Linked DNA regions of Homo sapiens: regions 1 and 2 are each linked to region 3. The links come from fine-mapping of genetic effects on gene expression. A gene starts in region 3. Each other region holds a variant in brackets. All regions are shown on one strand. Distances are between the middles of the regions.

What was found. PIP is the estimated chance that this variant, and not a neighbour inherited with it, causes the effect. A credible set is the group of variants that fine-mapping cannot tell apart.
Region 1: its variant is the best candidate, but not a certain one, in a credible set for the expression of MUC4 in sun-exposed skin (GTEx, PIP 0.79).
Region 2: its variant is the best candidate, but not a certain one, in a credible set for the expression of MUC4 in ovary (GTEx, PIP 0.76).

What each region holds. Positions count from the first base shown.
Region 1 is chr3:195,615,617-195,618,376 of GRCh38, forward strand. No RefSeq gene overlaps it. Among named protein-coding and RNA genes, the nearest start is that of APOD, 33 kb to the left of the region's middle. The variant C/T (reference allele first, on the strand shown) is at 1,404.
Region 2 is chr3:196,027,930-196,030,689 of GRCh38, forward strand. All of the region lies in intron 1 of LOC124909478 (a long non-coding RNA gene), which reads right to left. Among named protein-coding and RNA genes, the nearest start is that of TFRC, 53 kb to the right of the region's middle. The variant C/T (reference allele first, on the strand shown) is at 1,569.
Region 3 is chr3:195,810,778-195,813,537 of GRCh38, forward strand. MUC4 (mucin 4, cell surface associated) reads right to left here and starts at 1,152. Exons shown (of 25, transcript NM_018406.7): 1 at 959-1,152. The coding sequence starts at 1,040.

The sequences.
Region 1 (2,760 bases), 200 kb before region 3:
ATACATTAAAAAATAGAAAAGGATTTATTATTTTTTTTTTTTAGAGCAGTTCTATGCTCGCTCTAAACCTCGAGTGGAGAGGCCGAGTGTGGTGGCTCACACCTGTAATCCCAGCATTTTGGGAGGCTGAGATGGGTGGATCACCTGAGGTCGGGAGTTCGAGACCAGCCTGACCAACATGGAGAAACCCCGTCTCTACTAAAAATACAAAATTAGCCGGGGTGGTAGCAGGTGCCTGTAATCCCAGCTACTCGGGAGGCTGAGGCAGGAGAATTGCTTGAACCTGGGAGGTGGAGTTTGCAGTGAGCTGAGATCGCACCGTGGCGCTCTGGCCTGGGCAACAGGAGTGAAACTATGTTTCAAAAAAAAAAAGCTGCAGTGGAGAGTCTGGAGTTCCCATCCCCACCACTCACAGCCTCCCCCATCATCAGCGTCCCCCACCAGAGTGGCACATTTGTTAGGACTGAGGAACCTACTTTGACGCATCATTATCATACATTGTATTTTTAATCCTCACAACGGCCCTGCAAGATCGGCCCTGTTCTTACCACCCCCCACCTCCACTGCTTTGAGGATGAGGCCACTGTGCTTCTGGGCATCCAGTAACAACTCCTCGGAGCCAGGATCTGACTCCTCACAGGCCTGAGCACTGCACCCCGTGGCCTCCTGCCTGTGCTCACCGTGGCCTGGTCTGCGCTGCACGTGTCCCGTTAGCTCCACCTTACAGGTGCGGAAATGCAGGCTTGGAGCTGAGAGACTTGGCCAGGGTCACAGGGCAGAGAGCAGATTCTCCAACTCAGGGTCCCAAGTCCACACGCTTTCCTCTCCACCAGATTTGAAGATTGTACCAGGAGAGCCGCAGTGTTCCAGAGCTACTGAGGGGCTGGGCCGGGATTTGCTGTATTCGAGAAGACCCCCTTGGACCCGAGAGGCTGTGGGCTTGGGGAGCATGAGGAGGTTTCACAGCAGAAAGGACACCCCGGGGCTCCTGGATAAGCCAGAAAATGTGCCAGGGGAAGTCGGGCTCCAAGGGCACCACTCTGGGCTTCCAGCTGTGTGGGCTGGACCAAGAAGGCTCAGAGAAATGATCTCAGGCTTGAAGTGGGGAGAAGAAACTGTATTATGAAGGCAGATGAACAGTTCCTGCAAAAGTGAGATTTGTGTGTGCAGCTGGGCCGCACCGGACCAGGGATGAGACTGGGTGCCCGGGACTCGCCTATACTGCCTGGGGGTGCAGCCCGCACTCCTCACTATAGTCAAATCGACTATGCGTGCTTTCCAGGGGCCTGGGAGAGGACTCCATGTGGAGGGATGCTTACCTTGTGGGCTTTGGAATATAAGCCCTTTCATCTTCTCCGCTGGTCCTCACCACGTTGGCAAGGCAGGTATTGTGACCCTGTTTT[C/T]TCAGGTGAGGACATGGAGGCTGAGAGGGGTCTAGAGACTGGCCTGGCTAGTAGGAGGCTGAGTCAGGATTTGAACCAGCAGATCATCTGACCCCGGAGCCAGTCGTGGGCAGCACAGCGGGAGCTGCAACCGAGGCTCTTGACTCCTGCCTCGTCATTCCCTGAGGTCCACAGGACAACCAGTTGGGGACCTGGGGCCCCATCCTGATGCCCTGGGGAGAGGTGCTAGGCCCCTTTTGGGTCTATGGGCTACTTTTGGGCCAGTGGAGCTGGGTAAAGACCATCTCAAACCCTGTGCCAGGGGAGGTCAGACTCCAAGAGCGCCACCTTTGGGCTTCCAGCTGTGTGGGCTGGACCAAGAAGGCTCAGAGAATTAGGGGGTTCGTATTTGATCCTTTTCCTTCCAAGACTGGGATTACCAGATAAAACACAGGGCATCCAGTTACATTTGAATTTCAGGTAACAATTTTTTTAAGTGTAAGTATGTAGCCAATATTGCATGAGAAATACTCATGCTAAAAAGTTATTCGTCGTTTATCTGAAATGCAAGTTCAAATTTAACCGAGTACCCTGTATTTTTATTTGCTAAATCTAGAAACCCTCTCCAAGAGGCTCCTTGGCCCACTCACAGGGAGAGCCCGATCTCCCTCTAGACAGGGGAGGCCCCCTTTCTCAGGCCAGAAAAGATCTTGTAGTAAACTACTCAAGAGGCTGAGGCAGGAGGATCGCTTGAGCCCAGGAATTCAAGACCTGCCTGGGCAACAGAGCAAGACCCTGTCTCTAGGGAAGATATCCTACCGTAGCCTCCCTCGGGGACTCCCATTCCTCCCACCTCAGGGCCAGTCAAGGGAACAGGCCTCTGCTCTGGGCAGAAGTGCCGGCAGCCGCTCTCTGAAAAGCTAGGTGTTGCCTCAGGGGCTCCCGGTGTCCTGTGGAAAATGCCTGGCCACGGTTTCCATGGTTCCCAGGCTCCAACCCTGCAGTTCTCGGCCCTCATTCAGGAGGGGCCTCGGCAGGGTGGGGGGTGCCGTCTTTCCCTTGCCGGAGCCCCAAGGACTCTGCCGGCTCCCTCGCTTTGGCAGCAGCACTGCCCACCCTGTCTCTGGAGGTTCCCCCGCCTCAATCCACCCAGCTACCCCGAAAGGCACAATCATAGGCCTTTCTCGTCTTTTAAGGGTTTTTACTTCCATGGGGAACTATGTGTTGGATGAGAAAAGTACCCGGGGAAGGCGACAGAGGTTCAGAAAGCTCTGCGAGTCCTGGACGCTGGTCTGCCTTCTTGGCTCACCCTGGAAGGTGGACGCTGGCCCCACACATCCCCTCTTAAAGACGCAGGCCGATAGCCAGCAGATCCTGG
Region 2 (2,760 bases), 220 kb after region 3:
ATTAAATGTGAACAGTGAAGAATCACCACCTAGACGAGCCTTTCACTAATGATAACACAGACTCATTCTCCTTCATGTGTTACTATTAAATGTGAACAATGAAGAATCACCATCTAGACAAGCCTTTCACTAATGATAACACAGACTCATTCTCCTTCTTCACGTGTCACTATTAAATGTGAACAGTGAAGAATCACCATCTAGACGAGCCTTTCACTAATGATAACACAGACTCATTCTCCTTCTTCACGTGTCACTATTAAATGTGAACAATGAAGAATCACCAGACATTGAAGGGAAACCCATCTCAATGGGAAAAAAGACCAAGGTAAACCAGCAGGCGGAATGATTGTTGAGAACCTAACATCATAGCAAAATAAGAAATAAGAGTTTTATATTATCATTCACTTAGTGGCACTGTCTGAGGTTTCACTATACAAATATATTGCTTTGATATGTGTGTGTATATATACATACATATATATATATATATATATATATATATTTTTTTTTTTTTCTGAGTCTCGCTTTGTTGCCCAGACTGGAGTACAGTGGTGTAATCTTGGTTCACTGCAACCAAGGTCTCCCGGGTTCAAGCGATTCTCCTGCCAATTTTCATCTTTTAAGTGGAGACAGGGTTTTGCCATGTTGGCCAGGCTGGTCTCAAACTTCTGACCTCAGGTGATCTGCCCGCCTTGACCTCCCAAAGTGCTGGGATTATAGGCATGATAGAGTTTTAACTATTAGAAGAAACCAGAGGAAGCTACCATTGGAATAGATGAAACATCAGCAATACATTAAAATATCAGCAATTTCACATGTTCGAGATTACTTTTAAAAAATAAAAAGAGAACAGAATTGATTTAGTTTCTAGGCCAGCAACCAAGGAAAAAGCAAGGAATGGAAGATTTTATAATCGCATAACAATAGCAAGATCTTACATTTCTATTGAGCTTTAAAGATTACAGGCCAGGCACGGTGGCTCACGCCTGTAATCCCAGCACTTTGGGAGGCTGAGGTGGGCGGATCACAAGGTCAGGAGTTCAAGACCAGCGACCAGCCTGGTCAATATGGTGAAACCCTGTCTCTACTAAAAATACAAAAATTAGCTGGGCGTGGTGGCGGGTGCCTGTAGTCCCAGCTAGTCGGGGGGCTGAGGTGGGAGAATCGCTTGAACCCAGGAGGCAGAGGTTGCAGTGAGCTGAGATTGTGCCATTGCACTCCAGCCTGGGTGACAGAGCAAGACTCTGTCTCCTAAATAAATACATAAATAAAAATACAAAAATTAGCAGGGCGGGGTGGCACACGCCTCTAATCCCAGCTACTCGGGAGGCCGAGACATGAGAATCTCTTGAACCTAGGAGGCAGAGGTTGCAGTGAGCCAAGATTGTACCACTGCACTCCATCCTGGGCAACAGATTGAGACGCTGTCTCAAAAAAAAAAAAAAGAAAGAAAGAAAGTAGAAAAACTTCAAATAAACCACCTAACAATGCATCTTAAAGAACTAGAAGAGCGAGCCAGGCGCGGTGGCTCATGCCTGTAATCCCAGCACTTTGGGAGGCTGAGA[C/T]GGGTGGATTGCTTGAGGTCAGGAGTTCAAGACCAGCCTGGCCAACATATTGAAACCCTGTCTCTACCAAAAATACAAAAAATTAGCTGGGTGTGGTGCCAGGCACCTGTAATCCCAGCTACTCAGGAGGCTGAGGCAGGAGAATTGCTCGAACCCAGGAGGCAGAGGTTGCAGTGAGCGGAGATGGCACCACTGCACTCCAGCCTGGGTGACAGAGTGAGAATCAGTCTCAAAAAAAAAAAAAAAAGAAAAGAAAAGAAAGAACGAGAAAAGCAAGAGCAAGTCAAACCCAAAATCAGAAGAAAACAAATAATAAAGATCAGAGCAGAAATAAATGAAATTGAAATAAAAAAAAATCAAAAAAACAAAAAAGTTTGTTTTTTGAAAAGATAAACAAAATTGACAAACCTTTAGCCAGACTAAGAAAAAAAGAAAAAAGACTCAAATAGATAAAATCAGAAATGTAAAAGGAGGCATTACAACGGATACTGCAGAGATTCAAAGGCTCACTAGAGACTTCTATGAAAACTATATGTTGCTAATAAATTGGAAAACCTAGAAGTGGATAAATTCCTAGACATATTCAACCTACTGTGATTGAACCACGAAGAAATCCAAAACCTGAACAGACCAATAACTAATAATGAAATCAAAGCCATAATCAAAAGTCTCCCAGTAAAGAAAAGCCCAGGACCTGAAGGCTTCACTGCTGAATTTTACCAAATATTTAAATAACTAATACCAATCCTGTTCAAACTATTCCAAAAAATAGAGGAGGAGGGGATACTTCCAAACTCATCCTACAAGGTTAATATTACCTTGATACCAAACCAGACAAAGGCACATTTTAAAAAAGAACAAAAGAAAAAAAACTTCAGGCCAATATCTTTGATGAACATTTATGCAAAAATCCACAACAAAATACTAGCAAACCTAATTCAGCAACATATTAATAATATCATTCATCACGACCAAGTGGGATTGATACCAGGGATGCAAGGTAGGTTCCACATATGCAAATCAATCAATGTGATACATCATATCAACAGAATGAAGGACAGAAATCATATGATGATTTTAATTGATGCCGAAAAAGTATTTGATAAAGTTCAACATCCCTTCATGATAAAAACCCTCAAAAAACTGTGTATAGGAGGAACATACCACAACACAATAAAAGCCATACACAACA
Region 3 (2,760 bases):
AGTTTGTCTGCGTCTCACCTGTCTCGTCCTCTCACCCTGCAGCTTTACATGAGTTTTCTTCCGTCTCCATCACCCAGCTTTCCTGGCATCCCCTCTACCCCCAGCTCTGTACACAAGGGTGTACATCTTTCTCCTTGACTCTGTTCCTCTTGCTCTGGCTCTGCCTGTCTTTCTCTCTGCGAGTAAGCCTGGGCTCTCACCATGGATCCTTCCAGACATCGCCGGGCTGCTCTCTGGCCCTCTGTTCTCTTTTCTCTCTCTTTCGAGCATTCTCCCTCTGTCTTTCCCCTCAGATCTTGTCCCGTATCTGCCAGTTCATGCCTCCTCTTCCCCACTTTTCTCCTCTTCTTATTTTTTATTTTATTTTATATTTATTTATTTATTTATTTATTTATTTATTTATTTATTTATTTTGAGACAGAGTCTCGCTCTCTCTCCCAGGCTGGAGTGCAGTGGCGCGATCTTGGCTCACTGCAACCTCCACCTCCCAGGTTCAAGTGATTCTCCTGCCTCAGACTCCTGAGTAGCTGGAATTACAGGTGGGGCCCACCACGACCGGCTAATTTTTGTATATTTAGTAGAGACGGGGTTTCACCATGTCGGCCAGGCTGGTCTCGAACTCCTGACCTCAGGTGATCTCCTGCCTTGGCCTCCGAAAGTGCTGGGATTACAGGCATGAGCCACCGCGCACGGCCTCCACTCTTCTTTCTCTCTCCCTCTTCTCTTCCTCTTCTTTCCCTCTCTGGGTCTCTCTCCACCTTCCCCCCATGTTGTCCCATTCATCTCTTTCTCCTTTCCCTCTCCCTCTTTTTCTCTCCCTTCTCTTCCTCTTCGCTGTCTCCCTTTCCCCTATTCTCTCTCTCTCTCTCTCTGTCTCCCCGGACCTCTTTCTCTGACAGCTCCCACCTCCCCCAAGTGCTCCCCGCAGCCAGCCTCATCTGCTGTCTCCATCACTTACCTGGGACCACATGCGGAAGGAGGCAGAGACACAGGCAGCTCAGGGACACCCAGGGGACCCTCCTCCAGCGTGCCCCCTTCATGGCTGCGGCAAAAGTCCCCCTGGCTCCCTGGGGAAGCTCCACGGCCCAGCAGCTGCAGTGTGAGGAGCAGACGTGAGCCCGTCCCCTCAGGCGGCTGGCCCGAACCAAGTGCGTTTCTCCGAAGGGGCCAGGGAACCTGGGAAGAGGACAAAAGAGGGCGGGGCCCCACGCTAATCACCCTTTTCTCTCCTCAGCCCCACCCCACTACCCCACCAGGAAAGAAAACACCGATACACCCGTTGCTCTGCTTCTCATCAGCCTGAGCTGAGTGGCGGGAGGGATGGGAGGAGACATGGGGGAATGGGAACAGGTCACACTGGAAATGGGTGGGCCACCCTCCTAGCCGGGTTCCTGGGTCCTCTCCTCCCTCCCCAGGGGCTGCCCCTGTCCCACCAGAGCTTTGGGCTGCTGGGAAGAATGGGGAAGAAAGGGCCCCAGAGGGAGCGACCTTGGGGCTGTATGAATGGGGGAAAGAGAGTGAGACTTAAGCAGACCCCAAGGAATTGGGAAGCGGGGAACCATGTGGGTGAGGGGCAGGAACAGAAATGCACTGTATGCCGTCTTTTGGAAAGGGGTGGTGTGCTTGGAATATCTGCTCAGTGCAGGCGCGTGGCAGACCCCAGACGCGTGGCAGACCCCAGACGCGTGGCAGACCCCAGACGCGTGGCAGAACCTCAGTGCAGATGCGTGGCAGACCCCAGACGCACGGCAGATCCCAGACACATGGCAGACCCCAGACCCATGGCAGACTCCAGACGCGTGGCAGACCCCAGACGCGTGGCAGACTCCAGACGCATGGCAGAACCTCAGTGCAGACTCGTGGCAGAACCTCAGTGCAGACGCATGGCAGACCCCAGATGCGTGGCAGACCCTCACCAGATGGTGGACTTCTTCTTTCCAGGGCAGGGAGCTGGAGCCAGGGTGCAGGGAGCCAGGGACAGTCTGGGAGACTGGCCTGAGGGAGCTGGCATGGGCAGTGGGTTGAAGGCAGAACCTCGGTAGGAGGAAGCGACTGTAACCTGTGAGGAGGTGGAGCTGCTCCTGGAGACCTGGGGGCTCTGCTCACCCCAGTTCCACCTCTTGGAACTCACAGGCACAAGCGAGGAGGGAAAGGGACCCCAAGTAGGGTTGTAAAGACGAAGAGGGCAGTTGGTGTAGCTCTCTGCAAAGGAAAACGGGGATACCTCCGCTCCCCTCTTTGCCACAGTGTGAATCTCTGCTTCTGATTCCTCAAGACTTGATTCCCGAATGTGGGGTGTCTGTGGGGTGACTCGTCCCAGAGCAGGGACCTTCGATGCTCAGACACTGTGGGGCCCAGGACAAGGACTCAGGGTTTCTGCATTCCCAAGCAGAGCCAGCCTTGTCCAGCAAGGAGTAGGCAACCGACGCTGTGGCGCTGTCTCCGAGGGTCACGGAGGCCCTGTGACCACTTGCTTCTAGAAGCTGAAAGTCTGTTCATGGCCCCAGGCCAAAGCCTGGGCCACGCCATAATAATGCGGATACCGTGGGGAAGTGGCGTGGTCCCCCAACAGTCCCTCCAGCTCTGGGTGGACGAGCTGACCCTGTTCTTTCCTGGAGGTAAGAAAATCATAAAGGTAAAGAGTCATGTGGAGCATCCTGTGGGCGCCTGGACGGGGCAGCAGGAGGGACCTACTGCAGGGAATTCGCAGACACCAAGGCCCAGCTTGGCCTTCGTGATCATTTTGCACTTTTTTTTTTT